Linked DNA regions of Homo sapiens. The protein of the gene in region 5 purifies or fractionates together with the protein of the main gene of each other region. This does not show direct contact. Each region holds a gene or a part of one and is shown on either strand. Other genes may lie near its edges.

What was found.
Region 1: the proteins of LGALS9C (region 5) and SLC12A7 purify together in Homo sapiens (affinity purification with mass spectrometry; 3 studies listed by BioGRID and IntAct, with this or other methods). This does not show direct contact.
Region 2: the proteins of LGALS9C (region 5) and SLC12A6 purify together in Homo sapiens (affinity purification with mass spectrometry; 3 studies listed by BioGRID and IntAct, with this or other methods). This does not show direct contact.
Region 3: the proteins of LGALS9C (region 5) and DCX purify together in Homo sapiens (affinity purification with mass spectrometry; 2 studies listed by BioGRID and IntAct, with this or other methods). This does not show direct contact.
Region 4: the proteins of LGALS9C (region 5) and TSPAN3 purify together in Homo sapiens (affinity purification with mass spectrometry; 2 studies listed by BioGRID and IntAct, with this or other methods). This does not show direct contact.
Region 6: the proteins of LGALS9C (region 5) and ANO6 purify together in Homo sapiens (affinity purification with mass spectrometry; 3 studies listed by BioGRID and IntAct, with this or other methods). This does not show direct contact.
Region 7: the proteins of LGALS9C (region 5) and SLC12A2 purify together in Homo sapiens (affinity purification with mass spectrometry; 3 studies listed by BioGRID and IntAct, with this or other methods). This does not show direct contact.

What each region holds. Positions count from the first base shown.
Region 1 is NC_000005.10:1,077,564-1,081,063, forward strand, and holds part of SLC12A7 (solute carrier family 12 member 7), read right to left. Parts: intron 1,934-3,500; coding exon 1,835-1,933; intron 1,196-1,834; coding exon 1,138-1,195; intron 445-1,137; coding exon 270-444; intron 1-269. UniProt on the Homo sapiens protein: Mediates electroneutral potassium-chloride cotransport when activated by cell swelling. May mediate K(+) uptake into Deiters' cells in the cochlea and contribute to K(+) recycling in the inner ear.
Region 2 is NC_000015.10:34,254,282-34,257,781, forward strand, and holds part of SLC12A6 (solute carrier family 12 member 6), read right to left. Parts: coding exon 3,361-3,500; intron 2,003-3,360; coding exon 1,948-2,002; intron 1,112-1,947; coding exon 981-1,111; intron 309-980; coding exon 67-308; intron 1-66.
Region 3 is NC_000023.11:111,402,193-111,405,692, reverse strand, and holds part of DCX (neuronal migration protein doublecortin), read left to right. Parts: intron 1-3,500. UniProt on the Homo sapiens protein: Microtubule-associated protein required for initial steps of neuronal dispersion and cortex lamination during cerebral cortex development. May act by competing with the putative neuronal protein kinase DCLK1 in binding to a target protein.
Region 4 is NC_000015.10:77,050,610-77,054,109, forward strand, and holds part of TSPAN3 (tetraspanin-3), read right to left. Parts: intron 2,321-3,500; coding exon 2,168-2,320; intron 1,860-2,167; coding exon 1,776-1,859; intron 1-1,775. UniProt on the Homo sapiens protein: Regulates the proliferation and migration of oligodendrocytes, a process essential for normal myelination and repair.
Region 5 is NC_000017.11:18,490,289-18,493,788, forward strand, and holds part of LGALS9C (galectin-9C), read left to right. Parts: intron 1-444; coding exon 445-480; intron 481-984; coding exon 985-1,035; intron 1,036-1,656; coding exon 1,657-1,701; intron 1,702-2,168; coding exon 2,169-2,257; intron 2,258-2,408; coding exon 2,409-2,571; intron 2,572-3,500. UniProt on the Homo sapiens protein: Binds galactosides.
Region 6 is NC_000012.12:45,219,095-45,222,594, reverse strand, and holds part of ANO6 (anoctamin-6), read right to left. Parts: intron 1-3,500. UniProt on the Homo sapiens protein: Small-conductance calcium-activated nonselective cation (SCAN) channel which acts as a regulator of phospholipid scrambling in platelets and osteoblasts.
Region 7 is NC_000005.10:128,184,766-128,187,471, reverse strand, and holds part of SLC12A2 (solute carrier family 12 member 2), read right to left. Parts: exon of another isoform or gene 2,684-2,706; coding exon 2,616-2,683; intron 977-2,615; coding exon 841-976; 3' UTR 1-840. UniProt on the Homo sapiens protein: Cation-chloride cotransporter which mediates the electroneutral transport of chloride, potassium and/or sodium ions across the membrane. Plays a vital role in the regulation of ionic balance and cell volume.

The DNA.
Region 1 (3,500 bases), on a different chromosome or scaffold from region 5:
ACACGTGGCTGTGGGCCCTCACAGCCGCTCCTGACACACCCGGGGCCGAGCTCGGAGGGACCTGCAGGCAGGAGGGCTAGAATTGCCTCTGCCCACCACCCACCTCCCACCACTCCCATGCTCTGTGCAGTGGCCAGGGGCAGAATGACCACCATGGGGTCCAAGCCGCGGGCATGCGTCCCACACACGGCACTGTGAGGATCCCGCAGGGGAGGAGAGCCCCCGACCCTGACCTTCCAGGGTCCCCCCGACGAGGGTGCGGGACTCACCTGCAGGAAGGGGACGATGCCGTCACGGGCAATGGCCTGCAGTAGGCGCGGTGCCCCCGTGAGGCTCTGCAGGCCGGCACCGCAGGTGGAGAAGAAGGAGCCGATGACGATGACCCAGGGGGAGGGCCAGGCCAGCATGCCGATGACCAGGTTCCCCTGCAGGGCCTCCCCGAACCTGCAGGCAGGCGGGCAGGCGGGCGGGCGGCTTTCAGAAGTGAGCCTGAGTCAGACAAAATGTCTTCTCCCACCCAGAGCGAGGGGCCCAGTGCAGTGGGGGCGACTCCTTGGAAAGCTGAGGCCCGGCCTCCAGTCCCCGTTGGCTGAAACCTCCACCAGGCTCTGCCCAGCATGGCCAGAATGCTCTGGAGGGTCTTCAGCGGGGGAGGGGGTCCTGCTCACCTCAGGGTCGCTCTTGGGAGCAGGGAAGACCCAGCCTGGCATCAGCTTCAGTCAGGGACCACCCAGGACCCCCGGGGCCTTGGGGCTGCCAGACACGCACACCCCATGAGGATGCAGGGTCAGTGATGACCTGCCTGGGACCCCACTACTTCTCCACTTGCCAGCAGGGCTGAGGGATCTCCCAGGGCCAAGCCTCACCCGTCCACACCCCTGTGGCCTCCCCAGGAAGGGCCTGCGCCCCCAGCCGCATCAGGGCTTGGAGTTGGCTCTGAACGGTTCCCCAGGCCCTAGGCTCCAGCGGAAGAGACGACACATCAGACCAAGGGATCCCAACCCTGGGACCAGGACGCCTTCAGCTCTGCACGCGGACATGAAGTCCTAGGGCGATGTAATTTCAAAGCCGAATTCATCCTCAGGAAAACCCTTGAAGACTACAGGCTTTGCACGAAAACTGCAGGTGGAAACGTACTTATCTCGTAAGACCACGCCTTCAATGCAGGCCCCAAACAGCACAATGCAGGAGAGATCCACAGCCCTCGTCAAGGAAAGGCAGGTCCGTGGGTGCAGGGTCCTCAGGTACGGGGGGTGGGGTGGGGTGGGGTGGGGTGGGTGGGGAGATGCACTGGCCAGCGGGCCGCAGGATCCAGGTGGGCGGGGACCGTTCTGCATCCCATCCCATCCCGGGCACGTCCTGTCCCCCGTGTCCTCAGCGCACCCTCCTGGGGCTCTGTCCAGCGCCACAGAACGGGGCCCTGGGGTGGTGGACACACACCTGGCCTGGTGCTTGACCGCCAGGGATTGGCAGGGGACCATGCTGAGGGGACAATGCTCGGCTGGAAAGAGGCAGCCTTGGGATTGAGAAGCCAGAGGCCCCGCGGGCCCAGCCTGCCGGCGGCACACCCCACACACCGCTGCGCATCACTGTCCACACGCGGCAGGGTGACTGCTTCTGTTTTCTCTACGATCGCATCACACAGTGGTGAAGAAGCCAGGGTCCTGACAGCAGCCCTTGCCCCGTCTCCCAGGGAGGATGACGTGGTGAGAGCACAGCCTAACCTGGGAAGTCACATGCTGGTGGCCGAGGGTATGATGCTGAGCCGGGGAGGGCATGGGGGCCTCCCCCCAGGCAGAGGCTGGAACCCTCGCCTGCACCCCTCCAAGGATACAGATGAAAGACGTCGTCACTATGGCCAGGATGGTCCCCGTGGGGATGGACTTCTGTGCATCCTTGAGGTCCCCGGACCGGTTTGAACCCGCCATGATACCTGTGAACATGGAAAATGCTGCAAAGACCCATCTGAGGAGTCAGTGCCATGTGATGGCAGCCCCTGCCCAGAAAGCTGGAAAGGCGGTCTCTGGGGAGACCCCGAGCGTGAGCTGCAGCCGAGGCTGCAGTCCAAGCTCCGCCAGCCCACGCTGCAATACTGCGGCTGAGGGGATGCGGGCCCAGGCACGCGGATGAGCACCCACGTCTACTGCTCCCCTGGATCCGAGGACGAGAACCGACCCCGTCACTGACCCCCACGCCCCCCACACCCAGGGCTTCTCTGGAGCCTGTGTTAATCCCATGGCCAAGGGTCAGCCCAGAGACGGTGCTGAGCAATGGCTCACAGGCCCCCAGGACCTAAGGACTTTGGGAATGAGATCCTAGAACGACTCAGCCCAGCCAGCCAGGCCAGCAGACGCTGCGACCCCTCCCGCTGTGGCACCACCTTGCTCTAGGGAGCCACGGCCGGGGATGTTTCCACACAATCGGCTCCTACAAAGCTCTGGGAAGCCGGGTCGGTGGGGGCCACTTCACGCCTGGCTCGGTCCCATCCAAGGCGCAGCCTGAAGCACCCATTGCTCGGGGTGGCCTGGGAGGCAGCAGAGCCCACAATCCAGTGCCGCGGAGACACCCGGAGCCACGCAGAGGCTCTGCCCCCACGCCCTCCACCCGCGGCTCAGAGACACCCGGAGCCACGCAGAGGCTCTACCCCCACGCCCTCCACCCGCGGCGCGGAGACACCAGGAGCCACGCAGAGGCTCTGCCCCCACGCCCTCCACCCACGGCGCGGAGACACCAGGAGCCACGCAGAGGCTCTGCCCCCACGCCCTCCACCCACGGCGCGGAGCGCACTCAGACGGACGGGGGAGGCTGGAGCGGAGGTACAGGGAGAGGACCCCCGGCAGATCACCCCCTCCATAGCAAGACGGGCCCACCTTCAGTGGAGGCAAGGGAAACACGAGAAGCCAGCGCTGTGGCCAGGCCCTGCAGCTGACCCTGGGCTCCAGGGCTTTCGGATGTGCTGAGATGAAGTCCGGGAGCAGACGTGGGAGGGACCAGAAGGGACCAGAAGGGCAGCTGCAGGCTGCACAAGCAGCCAGCGCCTGTCAGGGGCGTCCCGACAAGAAGGCCGAGTGGAGACAGCCGGGGGCGTGTGTGTGCGACTCGAAGAGCACGGGGCCTGGCCCCACCCCCTGGGGAACAACCAAGGGCCCCACCCACCGCCGGAACAAGGCCCACTGTTTGAGGAGGACACAGAGGGCCGAGGTCCCCGGCCTCTGAGCTCACACTGAGGCCACTCCTAGGTGTCTCCTAACAGCCTGCCAGGTGTTCCCAGCAACCCTACAACAGCTTCTCCTGACACAGGGCTGCCTGGGAGAGCAGCAGACAGGCTTCTCACAAATCCATCAGGACGCAGGGCAGAGACCTCAGCCACTTCCCCTGAGCCAAACAGGCAAGATAAGCAGGGGCAGGAAGGAACACACTACAGAGAGAGAGACAGAGAGAGAGACAGACAGACAGACAGAGAGAGAGAGAGGGAGGGAGGGAAGAAGAGGGAGACAGAG
Region 2 (3,500 bases), on a different chromosome or scaffold from region 5:
TCACACCACCAGATATTTTCAATTACTACCCAATAAGGATGGCTAGGCAGAGAGACAGACACGTACGGGAAGTGTGGAGGAGCAAAAGAAGACTTGATGGCTCCAGCATAGATGGCCAAGATGGACACAATGACACAGGCCAGGAAAAGTGAGGCAAACTTGTTCACATAGCGTACGCCGATAAATACCACTAATACCATAAGGACCAAGAAAGCTGTGCCGTAGACACGCATGTTATTTAGCATGGCTGCTGATTCCTTGAGTGCGTCATCACTGTGAAAGATGGCAGCTCGGGGGACGATATAGACCTGTTAGGTAAAAATAAAGGAGAAAATTAGGTTATTTCAAAATAATTAAGTAAAAAGGCTGTATTCGTTTGCATTTACTTTCACAAAAGAAAGCAAAGCTGAGAGAGAAAATGACTGGGGAATTAGCCTAGTTTCTAATAGGATCTGAAATGCCTTCAGAAATGGGATGTCATGGATTTTTTTTTTTTTTTTGGTCTACATGCTGTTCTGAATAACTACATTTCCAAATGGAAAGAAAGGAAAGGAACAAATTATTAATTTTATTCATAGGGTTATATAAAGTAATTATAATGATGATCTTTAACCCTGACTCTACTATCACTACTTTAAATAGTAAACAATATGTCTCAGTGAAGAGAGATATGAGAAGCATTTTATTTCATAGGGATGAAGATATCAAAAAAGATAAACTTTATTTTACTTTTTCCCCATTGGACTTGAACCTCTTGGATGAGGTGGCAGAGTGGTGGCAATCAGGTAGAAAGGAAGGGACAGGCAGGCAAACAGAATTTCAACCTTTCCACCTCATATTCATGTAAGAGGCCAACTGACGTTGGCAGTCAATCACCTGATTTATTCCCACAGCTGATCTCTCAGAAGCTTTCATAGCAAAGAATAAACCTAAATCAATATTTCTTCTATATTATAGACCACAATGAAGTCATTACTTACCAGAAAGATTTCAATGGCACCAAGGATGTACATGGCTGCTGCAAATGTGGTACCAAGATAAAAGCAGAGGCCAACAGCCCCACCAAACTCTGGGCCCAGTGCCCGGGAAATCATAAAGTATGAGCCCCCAGCTAAAAGACAAAACAGAAGGTGAATAGAAGAAAGAGTGTGTATTAGCAAGAGGAATATGAATAAAACAGAAATAAGAAAAAATATATACATAAAGGTTAAATGTTTCAGGCTTCTGCAAACCCTCAATGTGATAAAAAGATGTGCTAGTGGGAAGTAAAAGGTGAAAGTGTTATTGTGGGATATACTGCACAACTAATGTAATGAGCCATATGAAGCAATAGTTTGCCAGCATTTACTTAGAAAAAAATTAGAGAATATTTACTATGACATGAGACAGCCCAATAAAATATATTCTGGCTGGGTGTGGAGGTTCACGCCTCTAATGGTAGCACTTTGGGAGGATGAGGCGAGAGGATTGCTTGAGGCCAGGAGTTTGAGACCAAACTGGGTAACATAGTAAAATGTCACCTCTGTAAAAAAAAAAAAATAGCCAGGCATAGTGGTGTACACCTCTAGTTCCAGCTACTCAGGAGGCTGAAGTGGGAAAGCAGCTTGAGCCTAGGAGTTGGAGGCTGTGTGAGCTATGATCGTGTCACTGCACTCCAGCCTGGGTGACAGAGTGAGACTCTGTCTATAAAAAAATATATATTCCAACTAATAAAAGCTAAGAATGTGACTGAAATTAATGCATTCTAGTTTAAAAAATAAAGAGATTTTAAAGACGGCATCTTAAAGTCAAGTAGTATTATGTCTACGTCCTATAGACCATTACTCTGTTGTAGCACAGAACAGACCAAATAGTATTCTATTCTTCAGAAGTTTGCACCTCTAGCTTTATAGCATAAACACAGAGTCAACACTGATAAATCCTGAAATACAACCTTGACCTACTAACCTGGCACCACTCCATTAGTGGCAATGGCACTCATGGAGATAGCAGTCAACATTGTCTGCAGAGAAAAGGAAAGGAGAGGATTGTTACTGTGTAAAGATGACATTTCTATACTACTTCTCCATTTGTGTTCCAAGAGCACTTGGCAAACATTTAACTCTACCTACTTTTATGGACAGTCATACCTAATGGTATGGAAATAAGATGATATGGTCCAATTCATTGCGCTAGTCATACCACTAATATCTGGAGGATTCTGTCAAAATGCTCCCACATCAGTAGGTCAGGTGCTATTAAGAACTGCTAATCTCACTCTGGATTTCCTAGTTACACAGGAAATAGAGCATAGTATACTCAAAAGGAAGAACTAGAGAAATAACTCAGAAAATAGGTTAGAACCTGACTAAAGACTAAATACAATATCAAGAACAATGTTCAGTAAGAAAGGGAATCACTGAAGGCTTCTGAGCACACAGGAACCGCATTTTAAAAATATTACCCGGTAGCACAGTATAGAATGCGCTGCAGATAGGAGTAGCTGGAGGCCGAGTGATTGGTTAGCAGGCTACCATAGTAGTTCAGTGAGAGGTAAAAACTATAGTGGTGGTAGTGTGAATAAAAAGGGCTGAGTGTAAAAGATTTCAGAGAATAGATTAGCGTTGGTAGCTGATTAGATGTGAAAAGCAATTAAGAAGCCAAACACAGCCTTGAGGTTTTAAGCCTGAGACTAAAAAAAGGTGGTACCATGAACATTTTAAGTTATTAAAAATATGAACTGTGCCTGCTTAACCTGTTTTGCTCATCAGCTGGGGATAATATACAGGTAGGGTATAAAGGTCATAGTGATAAAAAAGGACAGTAGAAAACTATAAAATTCATAGGTGTGTCTGGGATACATAATGAGAAGTTTAAATTAAAGGAAGATAAAAATGTTCTCAGTAGAGAGAAGACCTGGAAAGAACATCTAAATTTCTAAGGAAGGGATAAGGGAAGAAACTTCAAAACCAAATAAAAAAACCAAATACCCCTCACATCCGCAATAACCTGTCTTGTTTCTCAATATATACTGGAGTGATACATCACATTTTCTAACACATTTTCTGTCACAACTTTGGTGCTATCAAGCTCAAATAGTTTGGATTCTGAATTCTCTGAAGACAGGAACTTTATCTTCCATTTTCAGTTGAAGTCTTGCTTTGTAATTTCTAGTACATCATATAATAGATAGCAAGCAGTGACTAACAGGCACTGAATAACTGAAAATCCTTTAGATTTTAATATCAGAATAATTTCTTCTGTTGAGATCATGAGTCCTTCCCTAAGTATTCTTTGTTTTATTCCCAAAGAGGTCATGTGCATCTGCTCTTGAGAACTTGCAACGTTCAGGTGATCTCTAGGAGCCAGTGCAGTACTTACACAGCAGCAGCAGATAAGGACAATTGCAAAAGCCTGAAGAACTCCAGCTGTGCCCACCACCCATGTAAGGCGTAAAAAAAGGATCACTCCAAAAATATTTTGTAGACATGGGAGGTAGACACCCATGAAGGTACCCATTT
Region 3 (3,500 bases), on a different chromosome or scaffold from region 5:
TTATTTTTTTTAGAATCTTTCTCTTTCCCTTTATATCTGGTCCAATTCTTTCCCCATTTTCTTGTATGTAAGTATCCAGATCAACCTTGGGGATATCATTTATGACTAGCCAGCTTTTCTGAACCCAAATTGAGACAAGTTCAAGAGTTATTACACAGACCATGGGACAGAATATTTACAATTGGAACAGTCTTAGAAAATCCGAGCTGTGTAGTCACACTGGCTATGATCCAGTTCTTTTACCATAGCTCATATGTTTCATTGAGATGAATCCACCTTCTCACTAATTTATTCTCTAACTACTAAAGCAAGTACATTGTCAAACACAAGAATTTTAAGATACCTGGGAGGGATGCATTGCTAATAGATATGATAATCAAATGTCATTTAATATTTTAATATAATACAGTAAAGTGTCATTTAATATATTCCTTCTTGAGTCAGGAAGCCCTGGAGAAGAGGAGAAAACCCAGGCAGAAGCTTGCTTTTGCACTGAGAAGATACAAATATATATAAAATGCTTTTGAAAATGCAGCCTTCTTAAAGAGAAGGGAGGTAGACATTAGATCATCTCCAGCCCACAGCTTGTTTCATTTCTGCCCTTTCAGCTGTGCTTCCATGATTTCATTCCTTATCCCCTCACCCTAAAGCAGGTTTTTAGTTCCAGCGAATTTGCACCCTGCTTGGCTGTGAAGCCAGCTTTCCCTCTAGGCCCCCAGCTGGTAGGAAATAGCCCTTGGAAGCTGTGGCAGGATGGGAACCCAACTGTGTAAAGGTGCGACACACCTCATCCAGCTCCAAGTGCCAGGCAGCAGGAAGTGCAGGAGGCACTGAGCTCTGGCAGCAGACATTGAAAATGCTGGCAAAATCAGGACAAGGAAGTCTTAGTCTAGCAAAGAAGAGCATTTGATGTCTTTCTAGCAGAAGTGAAGAGTCCTTGGAGGTGGGCAGCTATTTTCTTAACATTTAATTATCCTAACAGCTTTGTTTTCTGAAGCCTGTTTGAGAAGGAAAAGAGAAGATTCCTCCCTATAGACTCTAGGACCTAGAAGGGACTCAGGTGTCACCTAGTGCATTATCTTTGCTTTAGAGAAGGCAAAGCTGAGACTCAGAGACATTAAGTGATTTCCCTGAGGTCACACAGCTTTTAAGTGCCTAGTTGAGATTTGAATCCAGGTCTGTGTGACTCCTAAGTCATCACTCTTGACGACGATAAATATCCTGCTCTCAGCGGGCCTCTGCAGAGGCAGCAGCAGCTTTACTGGGTGTTAGCATAAATCTCCTACATTTGGCATTTGCCACAACTGGAAGCCTCCTTCCAACCAGCAGGAAATCTTATCCTTGAATCACAGGCCCCCAGCAGTGCTCATGTCATATCATAATCACAGCTCAGTTCCTAGATGGTTGCCCTTGATACTTTCTCTTTTTTTTCCTCTTCAGCTTCTATTCCTCTTTTTAGTCTCTTTCTCTCAGCAATTTTTTCCTCTTTTCCTCTTTGCTCTTTCCTTCTTGTTCTCGCTTCTATTCCGTAAGATTAGGGGCTTAATAATAACAGAAATTTATCAAGTGCTTACTATGTTCCAGGCTCTGGGATCAGCATTTTATTTTATTTTATTTTATTTTATTTTATTTTATTTTATTTTAAGACGGAATCTCACTCTCTCCGTCACCCAGGGTAGAGTGCAGTGGTGCGATCTCAGCTCACTGCACCCTCTGCCTCCCAGGTTCAAGCGATTCTCCTTCCTCAGCCTCCCTAGTAGCTGGGATTATAGGCATGTGCCACCACGCCCAGCTAATTTTTGTATTTTTAGTAGAGATGGGGTTTCACCATGTTGTCCAGGCTGCTCTTGAACTTCTGATCTCAAGCGATCCACCTGCCTCAGCCTCCCAAAGTGTCAGGATGACAGGCATGAGCCGTCGCACCTGGCCATGGGTTGAACACTTTTTATCCATCATCTGATTTGTGCCCCACAACAACCCCACAAGATAGGTATTCTTATTATCACCCTTGCTTTGCAAAGAAGAAACTGAAGCCAAGGGAGGTTAGAGTGCACAACTAGGAAGTGTTGGGGACCCCATCCTGACTGACATCACATCAGCTGCGCTTTTTCCATTACTCCATATTCAGCCCAACGAGAGAGTGGAGTGACTAAAATGTACCACTGGAAGGTGCTCAACATAGATTTGGCTGAGGCTGGGCCCTCTGGAAAGTTCTTGGGTGCTATATGATACTATAGCTGTCAGTCATCATGTTCATTTTCATCTGGAGACGGTTAATCATACTCATACTCCAGAGGCTTAAGAGGTTTAAGAGATGGGAGCAAAAAAGTCCAAAGTCCTAATAGGGCTACACAGCTGACTCTCCAGAGGAGACTGGATGAGTGAAATCATAAATATATAGCTTCACACATTTCCACACCACCATTTGTCTGACAGTTTTAAAGTACATGACAAGTTATGGAAAACATCTGACTCAAAGGCAGTGACCTCCTGCAAGGTGCCAGTGAATCTGGTGAACTGCTAAGTCAAGAGACCATTTCTAGGGTTATGGGGGTTATTGGCTGTGAATATATGGAGACACTAAAAGGGCCCCTTCCTTCATCCTTTTAAGTCAAAAATTAAAGACCCCAGCCTATAATTACTTGGGTTGGGTTGAATTAACCAGCAAGGGAGTCAAAGAAATCAGAGCTTCTCTTGGCTGAGGTATTGACCATCTCATCCTGGGTGTCCATGTATGCACCAAGTGGGTAAGGGTGCCTATCCTCACTTAAAACCATCCCTTTGTCCCCCTGTCAAGATAGAACTCTGGGACTGAGGGCAGCTTTGGAAGTCACTTTGCTTATGTTGGATGCCACTTACCCTCCCCCTCCGCACACACACACACACACACACACACACACACACACACACCACGCACACACACACACACATACACACACACATAAATGTCCTCAAAGGTACACTAGAGATTTTGACTGAAACTTCTCTTAGCATTACTGAGAAATTTATTCATTAACATGTCTTAAAGGATTTGGTGCTATGGCAAAGCAATAAATATTTGCAAAGGGAGTGAATTATCAACCTGGTGTTTCTGAATGCAGTTCTCCTGCTGAGACCAAAGGAGAGCCATCAGACTATAATTGTGTTTAATGCTTTCTGTGCACTGGCTAGGGTTTATTTATTTATTTAGGGTTATTACCGATGACTTAAGCCTGATTAAATCACACTGTTTCTGCAGCTCAACCTCTCAATGAACTTCTAGATACCTTGAGGCTAATGTGTTTTACTCAACGAATTCAACCTTTTCCAGTATTCTCTTCCCCAGGCTGAGCCTATCTCTCTTCCTATTTTCTTCAGCTCATAGTCCCAGGTGTCCAGTCCCCTCCTCTTGCCTCTGATCCCTGCATTTCTTTTGCGATATTAGTCATTTCCTCTAGCCCAAGGTAAATGTGAAAATTACACTAGATCCTTCCAATCCATAAATCAGGCTGTATAATGTA
Region 4 (3,500 bases), on a different chromosome or scaffold from region 5:
TCCAAAACTTTTTTGCTGCATGCTAGTACATGTGGCTTTATTACTGAACATAAAATCATTAAGAATGCACAGTTCAGAATTCTATTTGGGAAAAGAGACCTTCCTCATATTTCATTATTTTTAGCTAAATGAATGTGTTTGCATAAATAATCAAAATATGAAATAAATCCCTGCTGATCATCAGATTACTGCTATGCAGAGCTACAGAGTAAATGCTTAGAAGGGCAAAGACCATGGCAAATAAAGAGGTAGGCTTTTTAATGAATCATTTCAGGGCTGTCTGAATATCAGCAAAGTAAACAATCATCCTTTTGCCATTTTAAAAGGCCTTTCCCATTAAATACACTAGCTTCTGTTCAAATATACAAAGAGCAAGCAATCCAAGCAACTTACATTTAAACTAGCAATTACATTGGTTTTATTTAACAAATAAAAGTTATCTACATTTTTCTTTTTTAAAAAAAATTTTTTTTTTGGTAGAAATGGAGTCTTATTGCCCAGGCTGGTCTCAAACTCCTAACATCATGGGATCCTACTCCTCGGTCTCCCAAAGTGCTGGGATTACAGGTGTAACCCATCACACCTGGCTCTTTTAGCTCTTGAAATAGGTTTCAGGCTTAAGAAAGCATAAGCTGAGGCTGGGCGCGATGGCTCACGTCTATAATCCCAGTACTTTGGGAGGCCGAGGCAGGTGGATCACCTGAGGTCAGGAGTTCAAGACCAACCTGGCCAACATGGTAAAAACCTGTCTCTACTAAAAATACAAAAATTAGCTGGGCATGGTAGCGGGAACCTGTAATCCCAGCTACTTGGGAAGCTGAGGCAGAAGAATCACTGGAACCTGGGAGGCAGAGGTTGCAGTGAGCTGAGATCACACCATTGCACTCTAGCCTGGGCAACAAAAGCAAAACTCTGTCGTAAAAAAAAAAAAAAGAAAAGAAAAGAAAAGAAAGCATAAGCTGGGTGCGGTGGCTCACGCCTGTAAATCCCAACACTTTAGGAGGCCAAGACAGAGGATTGCTTGAGGCCAGGAGTTTGAGACCAGCCTGGGCAACATAATGAGACCCCATTTCTGGAAAAAAAAAAAAAAAATTAAAAATTAGTCTGGTGTGGTGGCCCGTGCTTGTAGTCCCAGCTACTGGAGAGGCTGAAGCAGGAGGATCGCTTGAGCCCAGGAGTTCAAAGTTACAGTGAGCTATTATCATGTCATTGCACTCAAGCCTGGGTGACAGAGTGAGACCTTGTCTCTATTTTTAAAAGTTGTTGTGTTTAGTGCAAGAGACCAGTGCTGTAGTACCAGTTCTTGATTTACGTATATGAATATATAAAACCTGTGAGGACAGAAAAACAAGAACTAGAGGGAGAACTAGCATACAAAAAAACTGAATAAAGCTTTGTATTCCCAAACTGAAAGAAAGAAGTACAATTTTTAAAAATTTTGTGACATTCTAATAAAATATCTTCCAAGAATACACTAAGACAACAGTTCGTTTATGTTTTGAACAGGTCACTCACTAATCAAGAAAGACAGTAAGACGAGGAGTTCCCTCAACACGTGGTCCCTCCCCATCCAGATTTCTGGTTTCTTTAGACCATTCCGGGTCTAGGTGTATAGACAAGAAATGGAAAACATGGGAAACTGGAGGCCAGTACCTCAGTCACTTCCACATTACCTACATACACAAAGATTCACTGTGATGGGGATTAAAACCATTCAGGGCTGACAACAGAGAACCAACTCACTCCGATAGAACTCCTTGGCAAGCTGTGCTTACCTGAATAGCTGCAAATGCCAGTGCGGCCCAGATCACATGCATCATGATTTCTTGTAGCTTCTTCACTACTAGAGCCTCACACCCCTGTAACAAACACAGTCATCCTCGTTAGAAGTGTTCTTTAAAAGTTAAAGCTGCAGATTCACAGGCCACTACCCACTTACAGAAAGGAAAATGACAGAAACTGAAAGAGTGGAAAAAAGATTCCATGATTGGTATAATTTACAGACATGTAATTAAAACAAAGACATGCATTTTATAATAATTTACAGTAAAACAATATATGACATTAAAGACAAGCAAGGTGGCAGAAAAGAAGTCCCAGATGGTGATAAGACATGGTGAAAAACAGGTTAATCAAGCTAGACTCAAGTCGTGGCCAAGAGACTCACCTCAGCATAGAGGTCGGAAGGGTGGGCCAGGCTGCCATTACAATTGCTGGCAGTCTCTCTGCAGCAGCTAAGAGGGACACTCTGGTTTTTGGTTTCTTTGAACCAATCTGTATTTTCCCAGTCTGAGTAGTTGTGAATTCCACAACAATGCAGCTAAAGGAGAAGAGAATAAGTATTATTTCTCACAAAAACCAAATACCTGAAGTTCCATGTACTACAGAGCTTTAAAATAAGCTACTCTAGACCAGTGATGTCCGATACAACTTTCTATAATGGAAAGTCTGCATGATCCAATATAGCAGCCACTAGCCACATGAAGCTCTACTGAGCACTTAAATTGTGGCTAGTGTGACTAGAAAACTGCATTTTAAATTTTAATGTAAACAGCCAGACATGGCTAGTGGCTCCAGAATCTCCATATGAAAAGTACATTGCCAGGCCGGGTGCAGTGGCTCACGCCTGTAATCCCAGCACTTTGGGAGGCCGAGATGGGCGAGTCACCTGAGGTCAAGAGTTCAAGACCAGCCTGACCAACATGGTGAAACCCCGTCTCTACTAAAAATACAAAGGCTGAGGCAGGAGAATCACTTGAACCCGGGAGGTGGAGGTTGCAGTGAGCCAAGATCGCGCCACTGCACTCCAGCCTGGGCAACAAGAGTGAAATTTCGCCATCTCAAAAAAAAAAAAAAAAAAAAAAAAAAAAAAAAAAAAAAAAAAAGAAAAGAAAAGTACATTGCCTATAAGCGGTAGTTTCTAACTAAGGAAAATCTTCATGTCTTACATGTTAAATATCTGGTTCCATGTTAAATATTATTTCCAATGACAAAGTATTTAAAATATTTGGTCTTAAAAATTTTGAGATTTGCTTTAAGATAATGAAGCAAAAAGTAAGTAGGGGCAATAAGACTGACGAAAAGTTGATATTACTGAGGCAAGGTCGGGGTGCAAACATCTATTACACTATTCTTTCTACCTTTGTGTGTATCAGACTGTCCATAACAACTTTTTTTTGACAGTTTTTCTGTTGCCTTTTCTTATCTTGTTTTCTAAAGGTATATATAGACCTCCCACCTCCCCTGGAGTCAATCTGGACTCCCACCTTTCCTGTGACACATACCTCTCTCTTGCGTCATCACCCCTTTGGCTAAGTACTTTGGGAGAGTACAGACTGGGGTCAGGGAAGGGGAAATCAGATGATAAAAAAAAGTTCAAGATGTTTCTCATCTGGCTAGGTGATGAAATAAACTTTTCAAGGGTGAAGGTTGGGGAAAAATATTGGTCACATCAGGATAGCCATGTATGTGAAGAAACATGGCTAATTTACACAGAAATA
Region 5 (3,500 bases):
TCTTTCTGAGCCTCATTGCCTCACCAGGGACACAGGAGCTGAGGCTGCTTCCCTCTTTGGAAAGCACTGAAGCCCAGGACTCGGCCCACAATAGGCCTTCAACAAATACCACTTCTCAGCTTACGGGTGAAATATGGCACCGGAAGTAATGCTCTTGGCTGTGGGAGCTACAGACAGCAATGAGGTCTCTATCAAACCCAGCCTCCTCTCTCTCGAGAGGAACCAGTGGGGATACCCTACCCCTCAACCCCAAAGCCTTGTGCACCTGAGGGTAAAAATCTGGGTGCCACGGGCTCAGGAAGGCTTGCTTGGGAGCAAGAGGGAGGTGGGTGTGTCTGGGGAGGCATTTCTGAGCACAAGAGCCTCCCTGGAGTTCTGCCATCGTCTCTCCCCGTTCTGTGGTGCCCGCAATAACCACCGTTCTGACTCTCCTCACCCCTCCAGCCTCCCAGCGTGCGGCCTGCCAACCCAGCTCCCATTGTAAGTCTCTTGCTTTCTTTTTGGATCCTCTTGATTTTGGCTCTTCTTCTGGGCTAATGGAGGATGCAGGGCCAGGCATTGGGCCTCTCCCATCGGGAGTGGGGAGGGCAGAGGCCAGGCCCTTGACCATCTACCCGGCCTGGCGAGGTTGGTGGGTGAATGTGGTTGGCTGGCCGTGATGGAACAACCTGAGTTGCCACTCCATGGGCAGCCACGGAAGACCATGCCCCACGTTCACTTCTCTCACCTGCAAAGGGAGGCTAGGCTGAGAGACGTTTCCCCGAGAGGAAAGATGGGCCAGAGCCACCAGCGTCCCCATCTGTCTTCTCCAGGGTCCTAACCTTTGCCTCTCCCTCGTCCCCTGGACCCACCCTCCGTGGGGTCTGTGGGGCCACTGGGCTGGTTATGCCCCTGGAGGGTGCCTGCCGTGTGGCACCCTCTGGTGGGAGCTGGGGTGGTCTTTACTCAGGAGAGCCTGGGTGAGACCTGGTTTCTTTCTTCCAGACCCAGACAGTCATCCACACGGTGCAGAGTGCCTCTGGACAGATGTTCTCTGTAAGTCTTCAAGTTCTGATCAGTTCACAGCTGCACAGTGCCCTCCTTCCCCAAGAACTAAACTCCCTAGAGCCCTAGAGTTGGGAAGAAAGCGGTTTAGCAAGGAGGGTGGGGACATCTGGGGCTGAGTCCTTGGCTCAGGTGACATGTGGTTAAAACTATCCTTGGGACAGCAGAGATTCTGGATTTATCCAGTGGTGGAAGAGGCAGGTTCCCTAGAGACTGGGAGGGAAACTGGTCCTTCTGTCACCAAGTGGGGAGTGCAGTGGCCCCAGCACCCGGATGTGAGGTTCCTGGCCCTGCCTCCTGGGTCCCCGGGATGTCACTACAGATCACAGGCTTAAGCTCTTCTCCTGCTGGTGCAAATCAGGCCGGGAACTTAGCATTAGTGGGGCTGCCTGCGGAGGGGCTGAGGGGCAGGTGACCATGGTGGGGTCTGGGAACACGGCAGGAAGTTCCAGGAAGGCTAACATGAAAACGGAGGTTTACGGGAGAGTCCAAGGGCCAAAGGCTCATGAGGTCAGCCTCACAGTGGAGCCCCCTCTAGAATGCGTGGGTGCGCGTGGGTGAGTGCTCGCGCACACATGCGCTCTCCCATTGAATTTCCTGGTTTCTTTTCAGCAGACTCCCGCCATCCCACCTATGATGTACCCCCACCCTGCCTATGTAAGTGGTTTCTCAGGGAGGGCAGAGGTTCTGTTTGTGGTGGGCAGGCTAGGGATGAAGGGCCGCTACGGGGGGATCCGCTGGCCTTGAAAAATGAAAAGCGAAGGGCTTTCAAAATGGTAAGCTGAAGGGCTTCAAAGCGTCCCAGTGAATTAGAAGACTGTGGAGAGGAGCTTTCAACCTTAAAACTGTCGTGTCAACGTGAGCACATTGCATGGCCCTCCCTTTTCACCCCACGAGTCTTTCTTTCTGTGTTTGGCCAAATTTCCTTTCATGACACTAATCTAAGCCCATTAATTTGAGGAGCACCGGAAAGTTTTCCTTTGGCTTTTATGGAACCAAGGAAAGATATCGTGGGCTTCTTCTCAGCTGACAGCCTAAATTCATGGGAACTGGTACAATCTTCCCCTTCCATGTGGCGGCTGCCCTGACTGCCACTGGCTGACCTGTCCCCGTCCTTCTGACAGCCGATGCCTTTCATCACCACCATTCCGGGAGGGCTGTACCCATCCAAGTCCATCATCCTGTCAGGCACTGTCCTGCCCAGTGCTCAGAGGTAAGCCAAAGGCTCCAGTGACCTCTGGGAAGAGAGAGCCCTTCAAGGTCATTCCAGCCATTCCCCTGGCTTTTGGCAGGCTGGGGATGATGGGGAGGAAATGGGGCTCAGAACTCAGTGGACAAAGGTCCAGGTAGGCTGCCCACCCCAGGTTCCACATCAACCTGTGCTCTGGGAGCCACATCGCCTTCCACATGAACCCCCGTTTTGATGAGAATGCTGTGGTCCGTAACACCCAGATCAACAACTCTTGGGGGTCTGAGGAGCGAAGTCTGCCCCGAAAAATGCCCTTCGTCCGAGGCCAGAGCTTCTCGGTAAGGCGCCGCAGCCTGGAGCTTGAGGAGGCTCCTATGGGTACACGGGGAGGGGGTAAAGGAGGTCTGGGGTACCTTGAACAGGATGGGAGCTGATGCCTCTGGGATGAGGGCCCAGAAGAAAAGGTGGCCAAAAAATTATTGTCATTATTATTAATAATTATTACTGTCCTGCATGAAGGAAGCGTTGGGATCTGCTTTTTTAGATGAGGAAAGAAACTCACAAGTGCAGGTTACTTGCTTGCGGTCACACAGTCAGTAAGTGTCAAATCAGACCCAAGAAGGAGGTGTTATTCATTTCTTCACTGACTCATTCAACGATTTCACTGTCGCCCGCTTTGTGCAGGAAGCACTCCACATGCTGGGAGCGCAGTCATGAAGCAGACACGTAGGGTCCTTCCTCCAGAGAGTTTACAATTTAGCTGGGGGAAGGAACAAGGAAACTAAAGCATGAACAGATTGTTGCAGATAACAACAGTGCCACGCAGAAAGCAAAACAGAGCGATGAGATAGAGCGAGCCTGGGAGGGGCAGCTAGGGCCAACATGCAGAGGTGTGGGTGTGGCCTCTCCAGGAACAGCAGCAGGCGTGCTCCGCCCTGACTACACATTCAAATCACCCAGAGAGCTTACAAAGAACATATAGGTGCTGGGACCCCAGCCCAGGCCAATGAGGCGGTCAGCCTGGGCATTTGTATTTTTAAAATATGCCTGAAGTGATTACACTCTGCAATCAGAGTTGAAAATGACTGATGTAGGGCTTTGCAGCCATGGAGCCAGGGAGCAACATTCTTTGATTTGTGGACAGCTGTGTGACCTCGGGCAAGTGACTTAGCTACTCTGTGCTTCAGTTTCCTCATCTACAAAATGGAGCTAATAATCATATGAATCTCCTAGAGCTGTAAGAATGGAATGAGGCAGTATCTGTAGC
Region 6 (3,500 bases), on a different chromosome or scaffold from region 5:
GCACCCCAACATTATAGCAAGAGTTATGGTAGTTATAAGCCAGGAACCATGGACAAAAACATATGTGTCATAATATCACAGGGAACCACTGAGAAAAAGAGGAGGTGAGGCTGAAATTACTATGAAGGGGAATGGTCTGGCCAGGCATGGTGGCTCACGCCTGCTCAGCACTTTGGGAGGCCGAGGCAGGCGGATCACCTGAGATCAGGAGTTCGAAACCAGCCTAGCCAACATGGCGAAACCCCATTTCTATTAAAAATACAAAAATTAGCCGGGCACAGTGGTGGGCACCTGTAATCCCAGCTACTTAGGAGGCTGAGGCAGGAGAATAACTTGAACCCGGGAGGCGGAGGTTGCAGTGAGCTGATATTGAGCCATTGCACTCCAGCCTGGGCAACAGAGCTGGAGTGGGGGGGCCGGGCGTGGTGGCTCATGCCTGTAATTCCAGCACTTTGGGAGGCTGAGACAGGCGGATCACGAGGTCAGGAGATGAGACCATCCTGATTAACACGGTGAAACCCCGCCTCTATTAAAAATACAAAAAAAATAGCTGGGTGTGGTGGCGGGGGCCTGTAGTCCCAGCTACTTGGGAGGCTGAGGTGGGAGAATGGAGTGAATCCAAGAGGCGGAGCTTGCCGTGAGCTGAGATCACGCCACTGCACTCCAGCCTGGGCAACAGAGCAAGACAACGTCTCCCAAAAAAAAAAAAAAAAAAAAGGAGTCGGGGAGGGAGAATGGTCTGAGCCAATGGTCAGAGGGGAAAATTAAAAGACTAGTTGGAACAGAAAATTCTCTCCTCCTGCCACCATCATCCTGGGCTCCTCTCTGCTTGCCGGAAACAATCAGCAGCTGAGAACCCACAGATGGCGCCTCTTTCATAAAGCTGTCAGACCCATTCTTCTCTATTCCATGACCACTGCAGGCATTTCTGACCCCAACTACTGGAAAGGCTTAGCTCTACTGTCTCCTTTCCCAACCCATTTTAGAACGTGCTACCATGGAGATCTTTCCAAAAGCAAATCCAATCCTATCACTCTTTTCATTAACATCCTTCAGGAGCTCCAAATCACATACAGAGTAAAACCCAAAATCCTTAAAGTGTATGGAGGATCCTTCACGGCATAGCCTCTCCCTGCCTTCCCTAGCAGGCAACTATTTGGAACTCCAGACTCTCCTCCGGCCATCTCTGCACTACATTTTCCTAGTCTTTCAGCATCTGACCCAAAAATCTCTTCTGTGAAGCTCTCTCCCAGTCTCTCCCTTCAGTTTTATATGTACCTTTTATTGCAAATCTCTGTCTGATGATGCAGAGAAAACCAAACTCAGGTTCTCCTTCTGTACTCTCAATACAATCAACACAGAATACGTTTATCACCAGATGTGGGAAGAGTTCTTCCCACATGACAAGCAAGTAGTTGTTCAGCAATGAACGCCAGCTGGGCGTCCTCTAAATCAACTCAATTCGGATACTATCCACCTGCAGTAAGCCTCAGAGCTCAGATTGAGGGCTCAGTCCTACAAGGCTGCCCCCCCCCACTTCCGACACCAATCACAGGCCCCAGGTTGTTTTGCCTGGGTTTCTGACCCACCGGCTACAAATTGAGGTTCTTGCAACACCCTCTTTGGGTTCCATTAATTTGCCAGGGCAGCGCACAGAATTTTTGGGTTCTTATGGAGGCTTTATTACATAGGCATGATTGATTAAATCATTAGCCACTGGTGATCAGCTTAACCTTCAGCCTGGCTCTTACCCCTCTTCAGGTTGGTAGATGGGGCTGGAAGTCCAAACCTTTAATCCTGCCTTGGTCTTTCCAGTGACCAGCCCCCATCAGGAAGCTACCTAGGGGCTGCCAGCCATCTGTCAACTTATTAGCATACAAAAAGACACTTACCACTTTGAAAATTCCAAAAGTTTTAGGAGTTGCATGCCAAGAAACTGGAAGAATGCCTTATATATTTCACAATATCACAGTCTGGTTCTAAGGAACTTTTCTCCTGGAAGACACAGGTATGTCTTACTCATTTTCAGTCTCCCAACACCTGACCCAGCACCTAATCCTGAAACTAGCACAGAAGGATTGCTCAATCAATGTTTATGAAGGAAGACTGGGGCTAGTATCAGATTTATAGGTGATTAAACCTGAAGTAGGTAATAAGGAAAGAGAGGTGGGTGTGGGAAGATAAGTCTATGTAAAAATGTGACAGTTGAAAAGGGAGCCAATAGCTGGATCATTATCTCTCAAAGGTAATGGACCATGTCCTCTGTCTACCCCTCAATGACATACATGACCATTAGTGATGGGGATCAGACAGTAAACTACCATAAACAGACTAGGAACTCAAAGCAACCAACCAACCATCCACAAACAAAACCTCATTATCTGAACAGTCTGAATAGTTCCTGATAGTCTTTTTTGGAACCACTTTTCCTCCTTCAGCAAAGCTTGACCACAGAGAACAGAATTGAAGAAACAAAATAAAGCAGCATACTAATCTGATTTCTGCATTCTGGCTACAAAAGCTGTTCCTATAGCATTCTACATGAACAAGAAGAGATGCTGAATTTAATCCGCTGATGAGGGGGCGAAAAGCAGCCAAGGACACTCTTTTGCACACTTGGCAGGGTAGCACACAACCTAACTCCCAGGGGCTTGCAACAATATGTGATCTCCACCAGCACAACAGGGGCTTCAAACCACACATTTCCCACTACTACTGCCTGGATGTGGCTTCAGTGGTTGGTTGTTGGCTCTGCTTTAGAAATAAGTGGCCTATTGCAAAAATGCTCTAATGCCAACAGGTTGCCACACAAGCACGCCTTTGGAAATAATTTCTGCTGGCTGTAACTTAAACAAACAAGGAAAAGACATCCATAGTGAGATGTACTATCCTTGATTCTCCAGATCAGTTCATTCTAAACTAGGAGGCAACACTGACATAAAGTACTGAACAGCCAGGCATGGTGGCTCACACCTGTAATCCCAGCACTTTGGGAAGCCGAGGTAGGATAATCACTTAAGCTCAGGAGTTTGAAACCAGTCTGGGCAACAGTGAGACCTTGTCTCTACCAAAAAAAAAAAAAAAAAAAAAATTGGCCAGGCATGGTGTCACAAGGCCTGTGGTCCCAGCTACTCAAGAGGCTAAGGTTGGAGAATTGCTTGAGCCTGGGAAGTCAAGGCTGCAGTGAGCTGTGACTGCGTCACTGCACTCCAGCCTGACAGAGGGAGACCCTGTCTCTAAATGAATAAATAAAAGTACAATAAAAATACAGTGTTTCAAAAGTAAGCAGGAACCCACTGTTTAAAAGGCTCTAAATTCCAGCTACTAGAGGGCACATTTCCATATACATACATAAAGCATCTCTATGATATAATCAGGGACCCCATCCAGTTAGAAAGTTTTTTTTTGGGGGGAGGGGGAGGTCTCTTGCAAATTAGGCCATTATAACGCCCAATGGTATACCCAGGAACTCGTGTCAAAATAATTCTAAGGCTGGGTAC
Region 7 (2,706 bases), on a different chromosome or scaffold from region 5:
TAAATTAGGACAGTTTTCTCTCCAAATAAATATAAATGATCTTGAGTATTTTTGTTTAAAGAATGACGTGATTTTTAAGCATGGTATATAGAAGTATGGGATGAATCTTCAATCTTCCCTAAGGTTTCAATAAATAATAATAAATATAGTAATAATAGCCAATCAGAGGGGTTAAAAAGGTATTTGGGGGGGCTTTTTTTCCTAGCTCTATATTCACATATACTCATATAAACCTTACCATGGGGTTACTTTTTGGTTACCATTTCCCCTTCCCCATTTTTGATTAACCTGCCCTAATTCTCACCTTTAATATCTAACAGATACCTTTATAGAATTAACAAAACACATACAGTACTCAACACTAAATGGTCAATGGAAGAAGACAAGCAGTGTTCATTTTGTTTTAAAGTGGAAGAGACTAGAAATAAAAACAGTTGAAGGCAAAGTTTGACATTCTATAAGTTTATAAAAGAGGATATATGGATGAAATTTGGTTAATTTCAGAAGGCACCTCAAGGCTAAAGGCTTTTTGTACTTCTTTCATCAATCAAAAAGTTAACACGCTTTTATTGCTATTCAAGTAGCAAAGGAAAACTACTCTCACAAACTTCAGTTCAACAGAGAAGAATCACCATTAAGATTGAGATATGGAATTGACTAAAACCGAAGTCTCCATACACGTTATCAATGGAGCAACTTTCCTGTGTGCTTTCAAATTAATGAAATCGTGAAAGAAAAGTCACCATTCGCCATTGTGATGTTAATGTGTCATTGAAGATTTCAGTTACTACACTAGGCACTGAAGTACCATTCTGGAGGGCTGTCCACTGTATAGAACATTTATGAATAGAAGGTAAGGACACTCTGATGATTCCCACGAACTAGGAGGATTGGTGGTAGGTCCTTAGATAGAGCTTCTAACCATGCCATGTAGAGAGCACTAGACACAGCACCTTTTCGTGCAACTGGGAGACTCCTGGTATCAAAAAGAGAAAAAGAAAAAAAAAAAACCCTGAGCAATGCATTTACAGAATAAAATGTAGCAAAAATTATAAAGTAGATTACAATAACAGTTACTGTAAATTACTATAATTACAGAATATTTCTGAGTGCAGGAGAATTCTGCAAATAGAATAACAACCACAGTTGTGTTGCTTAGCGATGGAGACGCATTTCTCAGAACTTACTGTCAGGCAATTTTGCCCTCGTGAAAACATCACAGGAGTACTTACACAAACCTAGATGGTATAGCCTACTACACATCTAGGCTATATGACACAGCCTGTTGCTCCTAAGCTACAAACCTGTATAGTACGTTACTGTAGTGAATACTATAGGCAACTGTAACACGATGGTAAGCATTTGCATATCTAAATACAGAAAAGATACAGTAAAAATATATATATATTTTTTTAAGAGAGATGGGGTCTTAATACATTGCCCAGGCTGGACTCAAAACTCCAAAACTCCAGATCTCAAGCAATCCTCCCACCTCAGTCTCCCAAGTAGCTGAGACTACAGGTGCACACCACCATGCCCAGCTTAACATATGGTATTATAATCTTATGGTACCACCATCATATATGCATATATAAAAGACTATAATCTTTCAACAAAAGATTTTTCAAAATTTGTTCATAAGAACAGTAAGTATTTCTATAAACCACAGTACCTCTGATATCTAACACTAAATCCTAGGTTTCCCCTTCTTTAATAAGAATAGAATTCTTTTAGGTGAAAGGTATGTTTACTATCAAAATTTAGAAAACAGAAGCTATATATGGATAAATGCAATTTTTATCTTCTCTTAGTTTTAATTTCTATTTATGGATGGTGGCAGCAGTGACCAATTGCTGTATAGTTTTTCTCTAAATTTCTATGTTTTGGTGTCTTTTCCATTTACAGGTATTTGATTATCATCAGCAAAACTTGAAACTTTTTGATTTATTGAATGTTGTTAAACTAACAATCTTTTGGTAGTTTTTTTCATTACTTGGCTTTTTTTGTGGGGGAGAGGCCTGAGCTTTCCTATCTAAGGACACATGTTCCAGAACTCAGAAAATGTGGGTTCAAAGAATAGCTAACCTAGTTCAGTAGAGGAAGAGCCAAAGTAGGCATTTAGTATCATATTTAACTCAAGGACAATGTGTCTGTATGTAAAATTTGCGTGTTGGAAACATAAGAATGGGGATCCAGATAGGAATCACTATTCAAGTTTAATCTGCCAAATAACATTTTTTGAATTATTTTCAAGAGGAAGCTGTCCGGGGCCCAAATTTTAACGTAGGACCCTCCTATCCACACGTGCTTAACGGCTATGCTGTAGTGTTTACAAAGATAAGGAATTTTAAAAAGGTGAGAAGAAGGGTAAACAAAAGGTTCCAATATAACCTACTATGATAAAAAGATTACTTGGGATTCATATAAGCATAAGGTTAAAGTTTTTGTCTTTCTCCATATGCTTAAAGCATAGTATATTTTTACAAGTTTGTTTTTTCCTCCTTATAACCACTAAGTCAATATGGGTGTTATATAGATATGTACTTGGAATAGAAATTAATTCAAAGCATATTATCATAAATTAGCAAGAAAATCTTTATAAAGATATTACTTACATGACAATAATATTAGCTGTGCTTGAATGTTCCTTTAATAACTCATTTAACCTGATCTGCCGGTATGTCTGAAATGAAACAGGACAGTCAT